Linked DNA regions of Homo sapiens: region 1 is linked to region 2. A link means that fine-mapping ties the variant in region 2 to the expression of a gene that starts in the linked region. Tissue or cell type: whole blood. Region 2 holds a variant in brackets; the other region holds the start of a gene. All regions are shown on one strand. Distances are from middle to middle.

Region 1 (9,248 bases), 39 kb before region 2:
GTTTCAGGATCCACCCAACATGGGAAGTCAAAGCCTCTCTGGGATACTACGGGGCTAAGGTGCACAGTCGCTCAGGTTGTGCACAACACAAGGGCACCCCATTCACATGAAAACATCTTCATTATTTTGAAAATCTGCAGAGCACTGTGTAGACACATTAGGGATTACCTTACATGAGGCTATACTAATTTATGATAGCAATTATTTATGTGTTGTTATGGAAAACTGGGAGACAAAAATGAATTACTGTTTTGAGATCTTACGAAGCTTGGAAGACAGATTGGCCCTGGGGAGGCAGCGGTGGCCGCAGTTTGCAGGGAAGATTGCTGCCGAGGAGGAATCTGTGCACACGACAGGCTCCAACGATCTGCACAGGGCCACATGGGGCTTTGGCTGAGGACTAAGCTTCGCACGCACTGCACAAAACCCCAAGAGCTGAGCAAAAGTGGCCACCTGGGAGCCCCCTGAAAGCTGCACCAGGACAAGGCCCGTCTGACCAGGTCAAGTGCAGAGCCCCGAGGAACCTGGGTTGGTGATGGAGACCTCAGAAAGTCCCGGCCACTAGAAAAGAAGCATTTACATGATTGAAAAAAACGTTTGCAGAAAAGAGGTGAAATGACAGAACGAGGGAAAGACTCAGCAGAATGTAGCCCAGAGACATCGCGATGGAGACATGAGCTCACTTTCTGTCTCCTCATCAACCAAGAACCCCATAAACAAGGGCAGAATGCTCCCTGCGTCCAGCACTGAGACCGAGACCCAAGATGCACCAAGAGATTGAGAAACTGAGATCCACAGATGCACAAAGACCCACAGACGCACAAAGACCCTCAGACACACAAAGCAAAACGCGTTCTGATGCCCCGTGTCAGACGCGTCCTGAAGGATGAGCGATGGTTTCTGCCCGCTGAGAAGTATCCATCTGGAGCTGAGATTTAAGCCCCTCCACTCAACGGCAGCAGGAGTCTCTCCCCACGCTGGTGTGACCCACATGCAGGGCACCCACACATGTGAGGGGCGCCCGCTGCGAGGAGGTGGTGCCTGCGCCCCCTCCAAGCTGCACCTCAACCTGTCCCACCCTAAAGTGAGACGGACTGGATCCCCCACCGGCCAGGGCTGCTTCGCATCACACCGGTTCCCCCTGCTCTCTGTGCCATCGTCCCCTCCATGTGGCTTCCCAAACCACGGACACCTGGCATCTCCATCAGCCTTGGCCCTGGGCACAGTGAGTGTTTTCCATGCATTTGTGGGATTTTTAAAATAAACTTCTGTTGCCCTCGTTAGATTATAGGCCTTGTGAGAACAGGGACCAAGTCTTTTATGGATGAGGGGCGGGTGTCCGGAGTTTCAACATGGCACTTCCAGGGCTACAAGGAGGTGAATGGATGAAGAGCTCCTGTTGAGTGGAGACAGAGGAGCCCTGAGGCCTCTTTATGAAAAAGCAAAAATAAGCACCATGGAGCAGGTGGTGGTCGTGCCACTGGTGGGAGTGGGATCATCCTGCTAGGCACCAACCATCCCCAACCAACAGAGGAACACAGGCTCTGCCTCCTGCTCCGCATCTCCTCATTACACACAGAAACGTCCTCGGCTCGAGGACAAAAGCCCATCTGTATTCTGATCTGAGCAGGACTGGGTGCCGCCCTCACATCTGGAGGGAGCCTGAGACTACCCGACAGGAGCCACAGGTACCACACGGTGAGGACCCCCTTCCAGACACCCCCCTGCCCAGCTCCTGTGGACCCTCCCCCAACCTTTGCCAGGGGGGACCGTGGTCCTCTGTGGCGTGTCGTCTGCACCCGTCTTCATCGGGGGCACTAGCACCTGCCACACACTCAACAGCATCACTTCCCACTGGAAAAACAATGCCACAAGATTCTTCTTGGCGAGAACAAACCAGAAAATGGGACCTGAAGAAGCCGAGAGCCTCGCCTGTGGTCAGACAGCAGCTGAGCATGGGCAGAGGACAGAGCCCAGGCCGAGGGCCGCGGCCGCCCCCACCCACAAAGACCCCTGTCCTGTCCTGGGTGGAATTCCCACACCAGCTCAGGAGGAGCCCCACCTCCTCACCCTTCCTTGTCCTCATTCCAGGGAAATGGTCTGGAAGAGCACCAGCTCCCCACGGAGCTGACTGTTTCTCTGCTTGCAAATTTCATGAGATTTCTGATTCTGAGCTCGAATCTTCTCTCCACTTTCACCTCTTGCCATTCCTCATGACCGGTCCATTTCAACATCAGGGCCAATTGTTCCTTGTACAATTGCATCTTTTCCACAGTTTAGTACAAGAAACTAGGATTCTCTTCATGTAAAAGCTATTTGATGACAAACACCTTGTTCTAAGTGACTGCCAGGAAGTGCTTGCTAATTTTAAATTCTACATTATGATGAGGCAAAGTTAGTAGGAGCCAAGGGACAGAGCACTCCCATATCTCCTCAGACACTCGCCAGGTGCATCTGTGGAGAAGCCGCCCAGTGAGTCCTTGCATCTCACAGGTGCTTCTCACAGGTGCGTCTCACAGGTGCACCTCACAGGTGCATCTCACATGTGCATCTCACAGGTGCATCTCACAGGTGCGTCTCACAGCTATGTCTCACAGGTGTGCCTCATAGGTGCGTCTCACGTGTGTCTCACGTGTGTCTCACAGGTGCGTCTCAGGTGCGTCTCACGTGTGTCTCACAGGTGCATCTCACAGGTGCATGTCACAGGTGTGTCTCACAGGTGCATGTCACAGGTGCGTCTCACATGTGTGTCTCACAGGTGCATCTCACGTGTTTCTCACAGGTGCGTCTCAGGTGCATGTCACAGGTGTGTCTCACAGGTGCATGTCACAGGTGCGTCTCACATGTGTGTCTCACAGGTGCGTCTCACGTGTGTCTCACAGGTGCGTCTCACAGGTGTGTCTCAGGTGCATGTCACAGGTGAGCCTCACAGGTGCGTCTCACAGGTGCGTCTCACAGGTGTGTCTCACAGGTGTGTCTCACAGGTGCATCTCACAGGTGCATGTCACAGGTGCATCTCACAGGTAAGCCTTACAGGTGCGTCTCACAGCTGTGTCTCACAGGTGTGTCTCACAGGTGTGCCTCACAGGTGTGTCTTTTTGACTGTGTCAAGTCCAACCCAATCAGGGTCCCCCAGCATCATCAGTAGGTATGTAGGGAAGTGAGATGGGGAAAAGATAGAACCAATAGTGTGCCATGGAGCAGTTACCTCTGGGCCCCTGCAGGTAAGGGAGCTGCGGTGTTCACACACAACTCCCATGGTCATGGCTCAGGGTTCCCCAGAGGCTGTGGACTCCTTGCCGCCCTGAACCTACTCACCTACAATCACGACGGGCTCCTGGGGCAGGACAAAGCCACAGGTGAGGAACGCGGTGCTGCGGGTGGAAGCTGCTGTCACAGTCGTGTTAGGGTGAGTGGACTATGGCCGCAGACTGTGGGCTCCTCCCAGCCAACCCTCACTCCCGCTAGCGCCCCAAATCTTCAGTCCAGCACCCCTTCCCCGTCCCACCCACTCTCCACACTGAGCCCTCCCAGCCAACCCTCACTCCCGCTAGCACCACAAATCCTCAGCCCAGCACCCCTTCCCTGTCCCACCTGCTCTCCACACTGAGCCCAGCCACTCCACGCTCCCTTGGGCAGGTGGCAAGGCAGAGCCTGAGGTCAGCTGCCACCCCCAGCCCCACCCCAGGGCCCTCATGCCCCCAGCAAGGCCTCTCCAGCTCTGCGGTCCCACTCAAGATGCGCTTAGCTCATTTCACACGCAGGTGAGTGTCTCAGTTCTGCGGGCACGGAGGCCCCTGTGGGAGGGAGGTTGGCAGGCCCCTCGCTGACGGAGGGGAGCAAGGGGCAAAGTGGGGGTGTCCAGAAGGGGGTTGTGAGGAACTGGGGGACGGGAAAGAGCCCGGAGAGGAAAAAGGAGGTGGGGAGGGGCTGCGTGTGCATAGACCTCAGGGTGGGGCAACCGAGGACCTGAAGGCTGGTTTCCGGCCGCCATCCTCACATCCAGGCGCAATGTGAGCTCATCCCTGGGAGTTGGGAAATGCAACCGGCAGGCTCTGGAGGCTGTTCTGGGACTGAATGCAAAGCAGGCGACCCTCCCCCCGGCCCCAAACCCAAGCACTGCAGCGGCCCCACAACCCCTCCCCCCACCCACATCCCCACTCCCCCGTCCCCAGTGAGAATTCACTATTTTTAGGAAAAAGGGGAAGCCTCTCAGCAGATCCTTGAAAGGAAGTGACTTTGTGACTAAGTGGAGGCAGGAACATCATGGCACAAGGGCACACGTCGCACACCCAGCTGGGCCCACTGTGGACGGCGCAGATGCTGCCTCAGAGCAGCCTCCGAGACAGGCAGCTGCAGCGGTGCAGCCCAGGGCCCTCGCAGAAGCTTCCCCGGGGCCTGGCCTCGTGCTGAGAGAACTCTGCGCTCCTGAGGGCACCTGGCTGTCATGCACACGTGCTCACACGAACACACACACCTACACGTGCGCACACTCACACTCCGTGCACACACGTATGTGCACACTCATGCACGCGTGCACACACGTCTACCAGCTGAGTGCAGTAAAAGAACCACATGAAAACCTTGCATCCTGGTTAAAAGTATGGTGACAACATGGACAGATAAACTGGAAAAGATGGGAAGAAACCTTAAGCCCAGGATCTGGCAGCACAAAGGTGCCTGGAAAGCGACAATCAGCGTTTTTATATTCAGGGAAATCAGGAACACTGCCACCCGCCCGCCAGGCCGGCGCCCATGCCAGACCCAGCCAAGGTGCTTCTGGCCACATCACCCCTGCTGGCCTGCAGGGAGCTGGCCCAGGAGCCGAGAGGCCTATGGGAGCAGGCAAGGCTTGCTGAGGTGACAGCGGAGAGGAGAGGTCGGGCTTTGTTGCCAGGCAGCCCCCCAACATTCAGGTCCTTTTTCCACTGAAAGCCATGTGGCCTCAGAGCGGCGTCACCCCGAAGCTTGTCCCAGCCGGGGCCTGACAGCAGGTAAAGGCTGACTAGCAACTCTGCATCCCTCAGAGTGTGGGGGAAGGTGGATGTGGTCCCACCTCCACATCCAGGGTCCCCTTGCTGGCCTCTGGGCATTTGGGTCCTGGTGTGATTACCCAGCCCCCTCTCCCTGCACAGGGGTGAACTGCATCTCCTGGAGGCAGGGCCAGTGCCCCACCACCTCCCCAGCACACCCGAGCCCAGGTCTGGGCTCCCAGGAGGGCCTGGGGCCACCTGTGGGACCAACCCAAACCCTCAGGCAGCTCCACCAGCAGAAAGCGTCATGCTGTGTGTGGGATAACCTCCTCAGGGGATTAGTTCTCAGGGCCTGGTCCGCTAGAAGCCAAATGCCTGTGCCCAGCCACCCGTGACGCCTGCAACAGGCAGGAGATCCCCCAACAGTTACTCCCAGCCTTCATTCCACAGGGTCTGGTTTTCCTGGAAGGTGGGAAGTCCCAGGGTCTGAGGAGAGGGAGCGCAGGCCCCCATTTGTAGGAGTGAGTCAGCTGACCCGCCCCCGGGGTTCCTAATCTCACTAAGAAAGACTTTGCTGATGACAGGGTTTCCTGGGAGTCCATGCGTGCCTGGAGCAGCAGCGTCTCCAGGGACAGGCAGCCACCATGAGCCTCAGTGAGGAGCAGGCCCGGAGCTTTCTGGACCAGAACCCCGATTTTGCCCGCCAGTACTTTGGGAAGAAACTGAGCCCTGAGAATGTGGCCGCGGCCTGCGAGGACGGGTGCCCGCCGGACTGCGACAGCCTCCGGGACCTCTGCCAGGTGGAGGAGAGCACGGCGCTGCTGGAGCTGGTGCAGGATATGCAGGAGAGCATCAACATGGAGCGCGTGGTCTTCAAGGTCCTGCGGCGCCTCTGCACCCTCCTGCAGGCCGACCGCTGCAGCCTCTTCATGTACCGCCAGCGCAACGGCGTGGCCGAGCTGGCCACCAGGCTTTTCAGCGTGCAGCCGGACAGCGTCCTGGAGGACTGCCTGGTGCCCCCCGACTCCGAGATCGTCTTCCCACTGGACATCGGGGTCGTGGGCCACGTGGCTCAGACCAAAAAGATGGTGAACGTCGAGGACGTGGCCGAGGTGGGTCTGTGCGGAGCCTCAGGGAGGCGGCTGTGTGCATCTCTTGCACCTGTCCCAGGTGTCTAAGGGTCAGCTCGGATCCTCAGGCCTCCAGGGAGGCCTCTTGTCAGGGCACAGGCTAGTTCTGTGCTGAGGAGCAAGTACCTAGAGCCCCCTCCCGGCACTGTGCCCTGGCCGCCTGCCTCTCCGACTCGGCTTCTGGCTCAAGCTGACATCGCATGGCCACTGAGTTGGTTAGACCTGAGTCTAGGAGCCTCGGCTGAAGCAGACTCAGGCTCAAACCGGGGTGCCCCTGATTCTGCATCCACATCCCATGGTGGGGACCATGTAGTCCCTGTGAGGACCCCTGGCTTCCAGGAAGACTGACCAGATGGGGGCTTCAGGGCTCTCTGGGCTGGGAGGGAGGCCCTGCCTTGGGATTTGGGAAGAAGAGGTCACAGTCGAAGGTGGTGCAGACGCCCACAGGGAGGGAGAGCCAGGGGAACCCCAAACTTCCACTGTGGCAGAAGCAGCTTTATCCCATGGGAGCCCACGCCAGCCGCCAGGGGAGAACAAACCTGGTAGCCACTGAGCACAGGGGTCCAGGGTGGGACTGGGGAGGGACAAGAGACAGAATCGAGACAGGCTCACTGGAGTCACTGAAGGAGGGAAGGGCAGGGCCTGTTCATGCAAAGCCTGGGCTAGGGCAGACGCTTCCCGAGGACAGAGGCGGTCCTGGCGGGACTGGAGAACAAGAGGGGTGTGAGGTGCCTGCCAGACTGGGTGAGGGCAGCGGCCAGCAGAGACCTGGAAAGGCCCTGAGGAGCTGCCCGGCAAGGGGGCTCTGAGGAAGAAGGGGAGGGGGGAAGCCCCTTCTCCCTGTCCTGCACCCGTCCCAGCTTCCTCTCCCCTTTTCTGTCCCCACAGCTAAGGAGGCTGCAAGAGGCCCAGGCAGCCTCCGCTCTTGCTGGATGAGCCTTGGGAATTACCCACCAGGCTGCCAGCCCAGGGGCAGGTGTGGTCCCTCCTTCCCAGGCAGCTGGGGAGTGGCAATCCTGGTTTGTTTTCGTTTGTGGGTTTTTTTTTTTTTTGAGACAGAGTCTTGCTCTGTCACCAGGCTGGAGTACAGTGGCATGATGTCAGCTCACTGCAACCTCCGTCTCCCACGTTCAAGCGATTCTCCTGCCTTGGCCTCCTGAGTAGCTAGGACTAGAGGTGCCCGCCACCACACCCGGCTAATTTTTGTATTTTTAATAGAGACAGAGTTTCGTCATGTTGGTCAGGCTGTTCTCGAACTCCTGACCTCAGGTGATCAACCTGCCTCAGATTTCCAAAGTGCTGGGATAACAGGCGTGAGCCACCGCACCAGGCCGGAAGTGGCAATCCTCTTATCCCAATGGCAGTAAGCAAGCAGCAAGGCAGTGACCTAGATTCAGTAATCCCCGGGTTACCTTCATCTCCACCTCCCTCCTAAGAAGTGGGGCACCCACAAATCAATCGTGCATCAGGAGCATGAGTTACCAGGAAGCCAGGAAACTTCACAGCAGTGGGGCCTGGGGTGGACACCAGCTGCTCCTCCCTCCCCCCGTTCCCTCCTCCCTCCTCCCCTCACTCTCCTGCCACCCTCCTCCCTCCTTTTCTGCCATCCTCCCCGTCTCCCTTCCTTCCTCCTGCACACAATCCCCAAGACAACTTCTCATCCCCACCCTGTCCCAAATCTGGGCTGTGTCTTTCTTGCCCCCAGGAGTTTGTCCCCCGCTGCCACCACCCCTTCACCCCTTTGTCCCCACCCGGCTGATGGTGTCTCTTCCCTGCTCTGCGGGTCCCCCTCAAACTGCTGGGCTGTCCTAGGTCCGTCCCTCGGCCTGGCCTGTTCCCCAGGGCTGTTCTAGGTCCTGCCACCCCCACCCCCAGTGCCATGGCCGCACCTGCCCCAGGACTGACCTCCGAGGCCTCTCCCCTGCCCAGTGTAGCTGGTGCCATTCCAAGGGGCTGGGCATGGTGTCTGTCCCTCCATTCTGTGGAGTCTTAGTTATCTCAGACTAAGGGAACAGAAACTTGAGTCTGAATTGCCACCAAAAAAAGCAAATCTTCATGAAGTGCAAATCCTCATGAAGTGCAAAGCCTCATGAAGTGCATCTCAGCACCCTAAGCACTGCCAAGTGGCTTCTGGGTTCATGTCTCAGTTTACAGAAGGGGGGACTGAGGCAGAGCACACCTCAGTCTGGCCCACTGCACCCTCTTTGGAGGGCGTGAGCCGCACCGGCCAGTTCAGGAGAGCAGCTCGTGGCTGTGGTGGAAGAGTCCCTCAGACGGGGCGTGGGTGGCCAGCACGCAACACCCGGGCCACCCGGAGTCTCACCCTCCTGCCCGGGCCACCCGGAGTCTCGCCCTCCTGAGCCTTGTCTCCCTGTTTACATTGGGGAACTAATGTCTGCCTCTCAAGGGTGCTGCAGCGGCTAAACCAGCCTGCTCCTGAGCACAGCGGGCCCTGAGTCTGCAGGGCAGGCAGGCCCCGGGTAACCCGCTCCTCCCTGAGCTGCAAGCGTCCATCCTCCTGGAGCTGAGGGTGCCAGCCCAGGGTGAAGGCTGCAGTAGCCTGGCCTGTGGGCCCTCCTGTCCCCAGGGGTCTGTCCCAGGAGCCACCATGGAGGGAGGGGCTGCCCAGGGCTCACACTCTCGGGCCTACAGGGAGCCCAGGCGGTGCCAGGCCACGTGGGACCAGCTTCTGGGAGGTGCAGGGCTTCAGCTGATGGCTCCAAGTCCCTGTCTGCTCCCAGAACCCCACGACTACACATGTTGTGTGTCACGGCAGCCCCTTGGGGAGACACAGCGAATCCCAGGGCCTGCACAAGGGGGGCCCTGCCGGGACTCAGGACTGAGCACAACCTTCCTGGAGCCTGGCCCAGGCCTGGGCATGGATTGTGAACCCTAAAACCTTGGGCTCAGGAACCACAGGTCCCAGAAGGCGGACACCAGGCCCCCCTCCATCCCTCCCAACATGTCAGAAGCCAATGGGCCAGCCGGGTGAGAGGCCCTGCCCAGCTACCCAGTGTTCATGGCTCCTAGACAAGCCTCTTGGCAGGAAGGAAGCACAGGTCGGGTGCAGAGAGGGAGGAGCGAGTGGGCCTGTGAGGTGGCATGGCCTTCCCCATCCCCCGCTGTGCACCCCGGGCAGGGACGC
Region 2 (8,000 bases):
AGTTTTCACCGGATGTTTAGTGGGCCTGACTTGGACTCTGTGTCCATCTATGTCATCTCTGCTCTCAGAGTGCCTAGGTGCCTGCAACTCCCAGTGTGTGTGCATCCGCATGTGTGCACGCACATGGGTGTCTGTGTGCATGTGTGTGCACATGTGGGTGTCTGTGTGTGCACAAGTGTGTACGTGTGTGTGCATGTAGGTGTGTGTGCACACGTGGGCGTCTGCACAGGTGTGTACATGTGTGCACATGTGGGTGTGTGTGTGCACATGTGGGTATGTGTGTGCGTGTGTGCATTGTATGAATGTGCACATGTGTACACATGTGTGTGCACATGTGTGCCCACGAGTATGTGTGTGCATGTGTGTGCACATGGGCGTTTGTGTGTGTGTGCCCGTGTGTGCACCCATGTGTGTGTGCTCACATGTGCACAGGGGGTGTGTATTGTGTGTGCATGTGTGTGCACATGGATATATATAGACACATGCTTGTGTGTGTCTCCTAGAGACGATTGCTGGATCAATGTGGGGATTATGTGGTGTCCCCATCACCCTGTGTCTGCCTATGCAATTTAGCCAGAATCTCCCGGGGCCACGAGCCTTGTGAGTAGGCCTTGGACTGAGCATGGGAATGTGCCTGGTGGGTCTGAAAGTCCACTGTTGTGTGTGTTACCTCATGGCTGTGTGTGTGAGCCTACATGCGTGAGTCTGCACGTGTGTGCCTGCATGTCTGTGGGTGTGCCTGGGTGCTCATGTGTGTGCCTGTGTGTCCACACCGGTGCCTTTGTATTCATGGGAGTGGCCGTGTATCCAGGTGTGCCTGTGTCACGTGTGTCTGTATCCGTGTGTGTGTGTGTTTCTTTTCATGTGCACACCTTTGTGTTTTCTTGTCTCAACAACATCACCCTGTCCACCCAACTGGGCAAGTTCTTCACTGTTGGGCCACAGGGTACAAGAGGGGAGAGTGAGGCTGAGCCAGGGGGGCGTGTGAGCAGCCTGGGATACAGGCTGGAGCGCCAGGAATGACACATCTCCTCAGAGATGCCTGAGGTGTCTGAGGCTTGGCAGGGGATCTGGAGAGAAGAAAGGATGAGAAGCAAGTGGGGGCTGTGGCAGGCCAACCTCCCTCAGCCCACAATCCCTCCCACAGAAGGAGGAGCTGCCAGGGCCCACCACATTTGACATCTACGAATTCCACTTCTCTGACCTGGAGTGCACCGAACTGGACCTGGTCAAATGTGGCATCCAGATGTACTACGAGCTGGGCGTGGTCCGAAAGTTCCAGATCCCCCAGGAGGTGGGAGACACCGCAGGGCGCATAGTCAGGTCCCTGAGGCCGCCCAGGACATGGGGGTGGGGATGTGATCAGGGCCTCAGGTGCCCCAGAAGGTGAGGGGGATGGGATTGGGGGTTCCAGATCCCACAGGAAGTTTAGAGGGCCGACATGTTCATCACAGAACAGGTAAAATGCACACGGGAAGTAAGCATAAAACAAATAATTGGATGGCTGGGTGGATGGCTGGATTGATGGATGGCTGGATGGGTGAAAAGCAGGGAGGAAGGAGGGAGGTTAGGAAGGAAGGAAGGCCAACAGGCAAGCAGAAAGAAACAAAGGAAGAATAAATGAATGGATGGGTGGATGCCAATGGTAGTTGGATAGTTGGATAAATGGATGGGTGGGTGGGCCAATGGTAGTTGGATGGTTGGATAAATGGATGGATGGGTGAGTGGGCCAATGGTAGTTAGATGGTTGGATAAGTGAATGGATAGGTGGATGGATGGAGAAGTGGGTGGATGAGTGATAGATGAGTAGGTGGGTCAATTAATGAATTAATAGATGGGTCAATGAATGGGTGAATGGATGGGTGGACAGCAGATGGATGGTGAATGGATAGATTTAAAGTTTTATTATTAGGAGTTCCAAGCAATTTGATCATTAGGCACATCATCTGGCAATAACAGGGGATTTGGTGTGGGGTGCTGAGGAGATAGAAGCATCCCATCACCTAAACAGAAAGCACAAAGTGGCCCCCCTGGTTTGGCCACAGCAGCACTCCTCGGAGACCCCCTGGGGAGGCGGGATGGCTTTCCCAGCCCTCGTCCACAGCTCTGTGCCCTCCCTGGGTTCTCCTGCCCTGCCCTGCTTCCAACATCTCAAGGGGCTTCCCACAGCCCTAGGAAGAGAATCCTCTTTTCTCATGCCCCTCTGAGAACAGGTGCAGCAGGCCAGCATTTTCAAAAGAAGTTTTACTAAATACTAAGGGAAAACACTCAAGAAAAAATGTATAGAAAATATTTGCAGAATAAAAAATATTTCCAAATAATTTTCTGACCCTAAAAATCACAATGGCCGCAGGAAGAGCCTCCTGGCGATGTCCGCAGGGCAAGAGAGACCAGCATTCTCTTGCCCTGCGGACATCGGTTCTCCCACCCCAGCCTGCAGCCCACACATTCTGCTCATTCAAATGTCCATGCCTAAAACCAACATCTTAAAATATGCTGCATCCCCAGGGGTCCTCCTCCCAGCTTGAGGCCAGGCAGTCGGATGGAGGCTGGGCGGCCCCTGAAGGCTGGGGCTGTTCTCAGCTCCTGCCCTACCTGGCTCCACCCCATAGGTGCCAATGTGGCAGCCCCTACCCAGGAAGGCCAGCAGAGGCCAGTGGGAAACGCAGGGATGGGGAAGATCGGGAAGTCCAGGAGACGGTGTGGGGATGATGGCACGGAGCAGGGCTTCCACTGTGAAGTCAGCCACAGGTGCCGCTCTGGCGGGACTTACACGCTTGCCGCCGGAGCCCTGTGTCCTCTCGGCTCCCCCAGGTCCTGGTGCGGTTCCTGTTCTCCATCAGCAAAGGGTACCGGAGAATCACCTACCACAACTGGCGCCACGGCTTCAACGTGGCCCAGACGATGTTCACGCTGCTCATGGTACGTGGCTGCCAGAATCACCAGGGTTGTGCAGGCCCTCCTGGTACCAAGGGCAGCACTCAAGCACCCCGAGGGATGAGATGGGGGTCCTCCCAGGGCAGAAGGATGGAGGAGGGCAACGCCCTCTGACACCGTGCACCGCGCACCCCAGCCCTGCGGTGGTCGGAGGTCCAACCTCCAACCCGACGCCTAGGTCATCCCAACCCCTCACCACTCCCCACCCTGCTGGAGCCAGGACCGGTGAGCAAGGTGGCCCTGTCTCTACAGACCGGCAAACTGAAGAGCTACTACACGGACCTGGAGGCCTTCGCCATGGTGACAGCCGGCCTGTGCCATGACATCGACCACCGCGGCACCAACAACCTGTACCAGATGAAGTAGGCACCTCAGGGCGGGCATGTGAATTAGCCCTAAATCAACTCCACGCCCTTGGCGTGAATTAGGCTTCGCATAGCAGGCTATGTAGAAAGTGGAGTCCACGGCCAGGCCCCGTACTCCAGCACTGTGGGAGGCCAAGGCGAGGGGATTGCTTGAGCCCAGGAGTTCGAGACCAGCCTGGGCAACATGGCAAGAGCTCTCCTCTACAAAAACT[TA/T]AAAAAAAAAAAAAAAAAAAAAGCTGTGTATGGTGGCGCACACCTGTGGTCCCAGCTACTTAGGAGGCTGAGGTGGGAGGATCACTTGAGCCCAGGAGGTCAAGGCTGTATTGAGCCATGATTGCACCACTGCACTCCAGAGTGGGTGACAGAGGCAGACCCTGTCTCAAAAAAAAGAAAGTGGGGCCCATCTGGGGGGGCTGCAGAGCGCAGGGTGGGCCAAGGGCAGGTCCCACGGGCCTCACCTCCACCACCTGTGTAACAGGTCCCAGAACCCCTTGGCTAAGCTCCACGGCTCCTCGATTTTGGAGCGGCACCACCTGGAGTTTGGGAAGTTCCTGCTCTCGGAGGAGGTTGGTATACTCACCCTCGGTTTCTGCTGTGGGCGCTGGGGACGCAGCGTCCGCAGGACGGCAGGGCCGTATCCTGCGGAGCAGGGTTCTGATGCAGCGGGTGAGCACTGGGTGTGTGAGCACTGGGGGAGGGCGGCAGAGAAGGCGGAGGGCCGAGGCTGAGGGCAGGTGCATCGGAGGCCCTGGGAAAACGCTTGTGGGGAAGACAACTGGAAAGGGCCCCTCATGGGGTGGGGTGGAAGCCGAAGGGGAAGCGGCCCGGGACCCACCAGCGGGGGAATGAAGGGCAGCCGAGCCCTGAGCGGCCCCCAAGGACCTGGACACTCAGTGGACCCCTCCCTGCGCTCCCCGGTGGTGACCTCTGAGGCCATCTGCGTCCCAAGCCGACGATGGAGCCGCTGGTGGAGAGCTGGGCACCCTGAGGAGGGCCCTGAGCAGCAGGCGGATTAGGGGTCCCGCCCACCGAGGGCCCGAGGGCGGGGGCGTGAGAGGCACAGGCAGCCGAGGCGGAAGGGGCGGGGTCCCCGGGCACCCTGAGAGGTGGCCGCAGGGCGCCTGACGCGCTGGGCATAACCTCCGCAGACCCTGAACATCTACCAGAACCTGAACCGGCGGCAGCACGAGCACGTGATCCACCTGATGGACATCGCCATCATCGCCACGGACCTGGCCCTGTACTTCAAGTGCGCGCCTTCCGGGAGGGGGCGCCTCGCGGGGCGGGCGGGTAGCCTGGGACCCCCGGCAGACACGGGGGCGCAGCGGCGGCACAGCCCGGGGGACGCAGCCCCGGATTCCGTCCCTGCCCGCCGGCCCCGCGCACCCCGGATGGGGCCTCGCTCGGGCTCCGCGCCTCCCTGCAGACGGGCGCTTGGGGCGGGGTCTCCACACTTGCTCCCACCTGCACCTCCCTTGTTCCCTGGGTTCAGGAAGAGAGCGATGTTTCAGAAGATCGTGGATGAGTCCAAGAACTACCAGGACAAGAAGAGCTGGGTGGAGTACCTGTCCCTGGAGACGACCCGGAAGGAGATCGTCATGTGAGCGCGGGCGGAGGGGGCACGAGGGGTCCTTCCCTCGCAGGGACCGGGCCCACTCACCAGCTGGTTAACCCTGCAGCCCTCCCCAGACGCTCTGGAGCAGGAAGAGCCCGTCGCGGCAGCTTGTCGAGGGCTGTGAAACAAATGCGCCGTCCTTATTTCCCCCCAGCTCTCAGGGAGATGGTGCAGAGCTGGGGAGCACACAGGCCCTGCATTGGTCTGTAGCCCTTGGCAGTAACTTACTTCATTTTGACCTTCCACTTTTTCACCTGTAAAATGGTGATTCACAACCAGCCCCTCCCCAGGCTGGTCCCAGGGACCCAGTGAGAAAATACACATAAACCCAGCACTTGGGAGGCCGAGGGGAGTGGATCACCTGAGGTCAGGAGTTCGAGATCAGCCTGGCCAACATGGTGAAACCCCGTCTCTACCGAAAATACAAAAATTAGCCGGGCGTGGTGGCGGGCGCCTGTAATCCCAGCTACTCGGGAGGCTGAGGCACAAGAATCGGGAGGCGGAGGTTGCAGTGAGCTGAGATTGCGCCATTGCACTCCAGCCTGGGCAACAGAGCAAGACTCCATCTCAAAAAAGAAAACACATATAAACCACCTGCCCTCAGGAGACGCCCATCAGCACTCGTGCCCGGTTTGTGTCTGCAGGGCCATGATGATGACAGCCTGCGACCTGTCTGCCATCACCAAGCCCTGGGAAGTCCAGAGCAAGGTTAGAACAGAGGGCCCTCCAGACCCAGAGTCAGTGCCTCTCAGCACATGGGACTGCCGGGCGGGCGGGAGCCTCGGATGGCAACGGACCATTGTTTGCAAGGAGCTCTGAGGGCCACCTCGGGGCCAGGCCAGGGCGGCAAGGATGGGGGTACTGCAGTGTGTCTACATGGCTCAACCGGAGCCCTGTGTGGTGGGGACCCCGGGGGTCTGGGGCGGAGAAGACCGAGGCTCGGAGCCTCACGGGGCGGGCCCGGGCCCTTCCGCGTGGGCTCAGAGCTCCACAGACAGCTGCCTTCCTGTGCCTCCAGGTCGCACTTCTCGTGGCTGCTGAGTTCTGGGAGCAAGGTGACTTGGAAAGGACAGTCTTGGATCAGCAGCCCATTGTGAGTGCTGCTTCTGGAACCTTCCACTCCTGAAACGGGTGTTAGAGACCCCTCTTGGTCCTCAGGAGCCTCAGGTCCTGGCTTGGTCTCAGGCAGGGGGTTCTGAGGTCGTGGGGTCCTTATCTCACTTTGTGGGATCATGTGACATGCGTGTGGGTGGCTCGGACCTGGGTACAGCTGTGGCTTGGGTGATGCTTATGCAGAGGTGACGTCGTTGGCACTGGAGGAACCAGGGCCACCCGCTCATCACCAGGAGCCTCTGGGTCCAGGCAGCTCTGCAGGTGAACCCCAGCAGGGCCGCGAGCCATGCACCAAGAAAGCCCTGGGGAGGGTGCTGGGGCAGAGAACGCATGGGGGGCGTCCCGGGCCCACACAGTGGTATGATGGACAATGCCAGGGTCCTCAGGTCAGCAGCGGGGTCTGGATACCTCCTGGCAGCAGGAGAGGTGCCAGCAAATGGGAGAGTCAGGATAGGCGCCAGGAACAGGAGAGGCAGGGCTGCCCCAGCCCCACGTGGACCAGGTGGGAGCTGTGGTTTCTCACACACCCGCTCTGGTGGGCGGCGAGGGGCTCTCTGGAGCCTGCAGTGGAGAGGGCTTAGGCCAGGTGCAGCCTCGGCAGGAAAGGGGGCATTGGTTGGTCAGCAAAGCCCCACAGGGGAAGGACAGGCAGCAGGTCCATCCCCCGCGCCCGGCCTCTAGAGTCCTGCATGGTTCACCCTCCACCAGGACGCTGTGAGGGGACGGACAGCCCAGGGCACTCGGGGTCTGACACTAGAAACAGCTCCAGAGCACGTCTGTGTCTGCCCCAGGCGAGTGCACAGCGAGGTCCTGGTCAGCCGAGTGTCTGGGCAGTGCAGCCCAGCCCGGCTCAGCACTGTGTACAGCCCATCCCCCTCCCCGCCTCTCCCCAGCTGCAGTAAGGGTCCCCAGAGCCAAGAGGGGGCTGCCCTCAGGGGACCACGGGCTGGAGCCAACAGCAGCTGTGGGAAGAAGCTGCCCACAGTTCCTAGGAGCTGTGGAGCCGCTGGCCAAGGGAGAGGGTGTCAGCTTCCCCTCCCGAGAGCCAGTTTCTGTCAGGCAGGCTCGTCCCAGGCTGTGTCTCCATGAGCACATCTGAGTGAGGGGGTCGGGGGGCTGGGCGGGGCCCCAGGAGCTGCCTCCCTGGTCACTGTTCTCCCGCCCTCTGTTCCTCCCACCAGCCTATGATGGACCGGAACAAGGCGGCCGAGCTCCCCAAGCTGCAAGTGGGCTTCATCGACTTCGTGTGCACATTCGTGTACAAGGCGAGTGGTTCACGGGTGTTCCGAGCTGACTGGGGCAGGGTGGCTGGGAGCAGGCAAGGGGGCGCGGGCTGGAGTCGCGTGGACTCACACGGGCCCGGCGGTGTCCTCACTGGAGTAGGGATGCCAGTGCCAGCTTCGTGCCGCTCTTGAGTGGGGCAAATGGGGAGGAACATCAGTTTCCGGACCCCCACAGGTGCCCCAGCCCATCCTCACCCTGCTGTGCCCCTGGAAGCTCTGAGCCCTTTCCCAGCCCAGAATGTCCTCTGCTAGCCTCCAGGCCTACCCCAGAAGTTCTCCCTCAGTGCCCTCCGCCGTGGCCAGCACACTGTTTTGGGGGCCTTGGCTGCAGCTCTGTGGGTTCATTTGTTCCATGTTTGTGAACCCTCGAGGCGGGGCTGGGTCGGCCTGTCTGCTGGTGCACCCGCCCACAGGGGCGTTTGGAACAGCAGAAGGAGCCACATCCCTGCCAATCTGCCACAGTCCGATGCCAGCTGAGTCTCTGAGGACGCAAGGCGGACATGGAGGGGGAGACTCGATGGGGCAGGGGTCTGACCGTGGGGCCCTGTGTGATGCCCATAAGAGCCAGCTGCCTCCGGCCACACTCCCTGGTGATGGAATCCACGCCCCAAGGAGGATGCCACGGGTTCCACATGAAGTTGTCCCGGAGTGGGCTGTGCCCACTCCCCGCCCCATCCTACCCACCCC

The links. PIP is the estimated chance that this variant, and not a neighbour inherited with it, causes the effect.
Region 1: it holds the start of PDE6B, and the variant in region 2 is fine-mapped to the expression of PDE6B in whole blood (INTERVAL, PIP above 0.99).

What each region holds. Positions count from the first base shown.
Region 1 is chr4:620,010-629,257 of GRCh38, forward strand. It overlaps PDE6B (phosphodiesterase 6B), which reads left to right and starts at 5,564. Exons shown (of 22, transcript NM_000283.4): 1 at 5,564-6,085. The coding sequence starts at 5,618. RefSeq lists enhancers at 3,260-4,250, 5,240-6,229, 6,230-7,218.
Region 2 is chr4:659,320-667,319 of GRCh38, forward strand. PDE6B (phosphodiesterase 6B) reads left to right here. Exons shown (of 22, transcript NM_000283.4): 12 at 1,148-1,294; 13 at 2,815-2,922; 14 at 3,190-3,299; 15 at 3,781-3,868; 16 at 4,451-4,551; 17 at 4,795-4,902; 18 at 5,562-5,625; 19 at 5,936-6,010; 20 at 7,212-7,295. Among named protein-coding and RNA genes, the nearest start is that of PDE6B-AS1, 8.1 kb to the left of the region's middle. RefSeq lists an enhancer at 4,054-4,646 and a silencer at 4,241-4,710. The variant TA/T (reference allele first, on the strand shown) is at 3,515.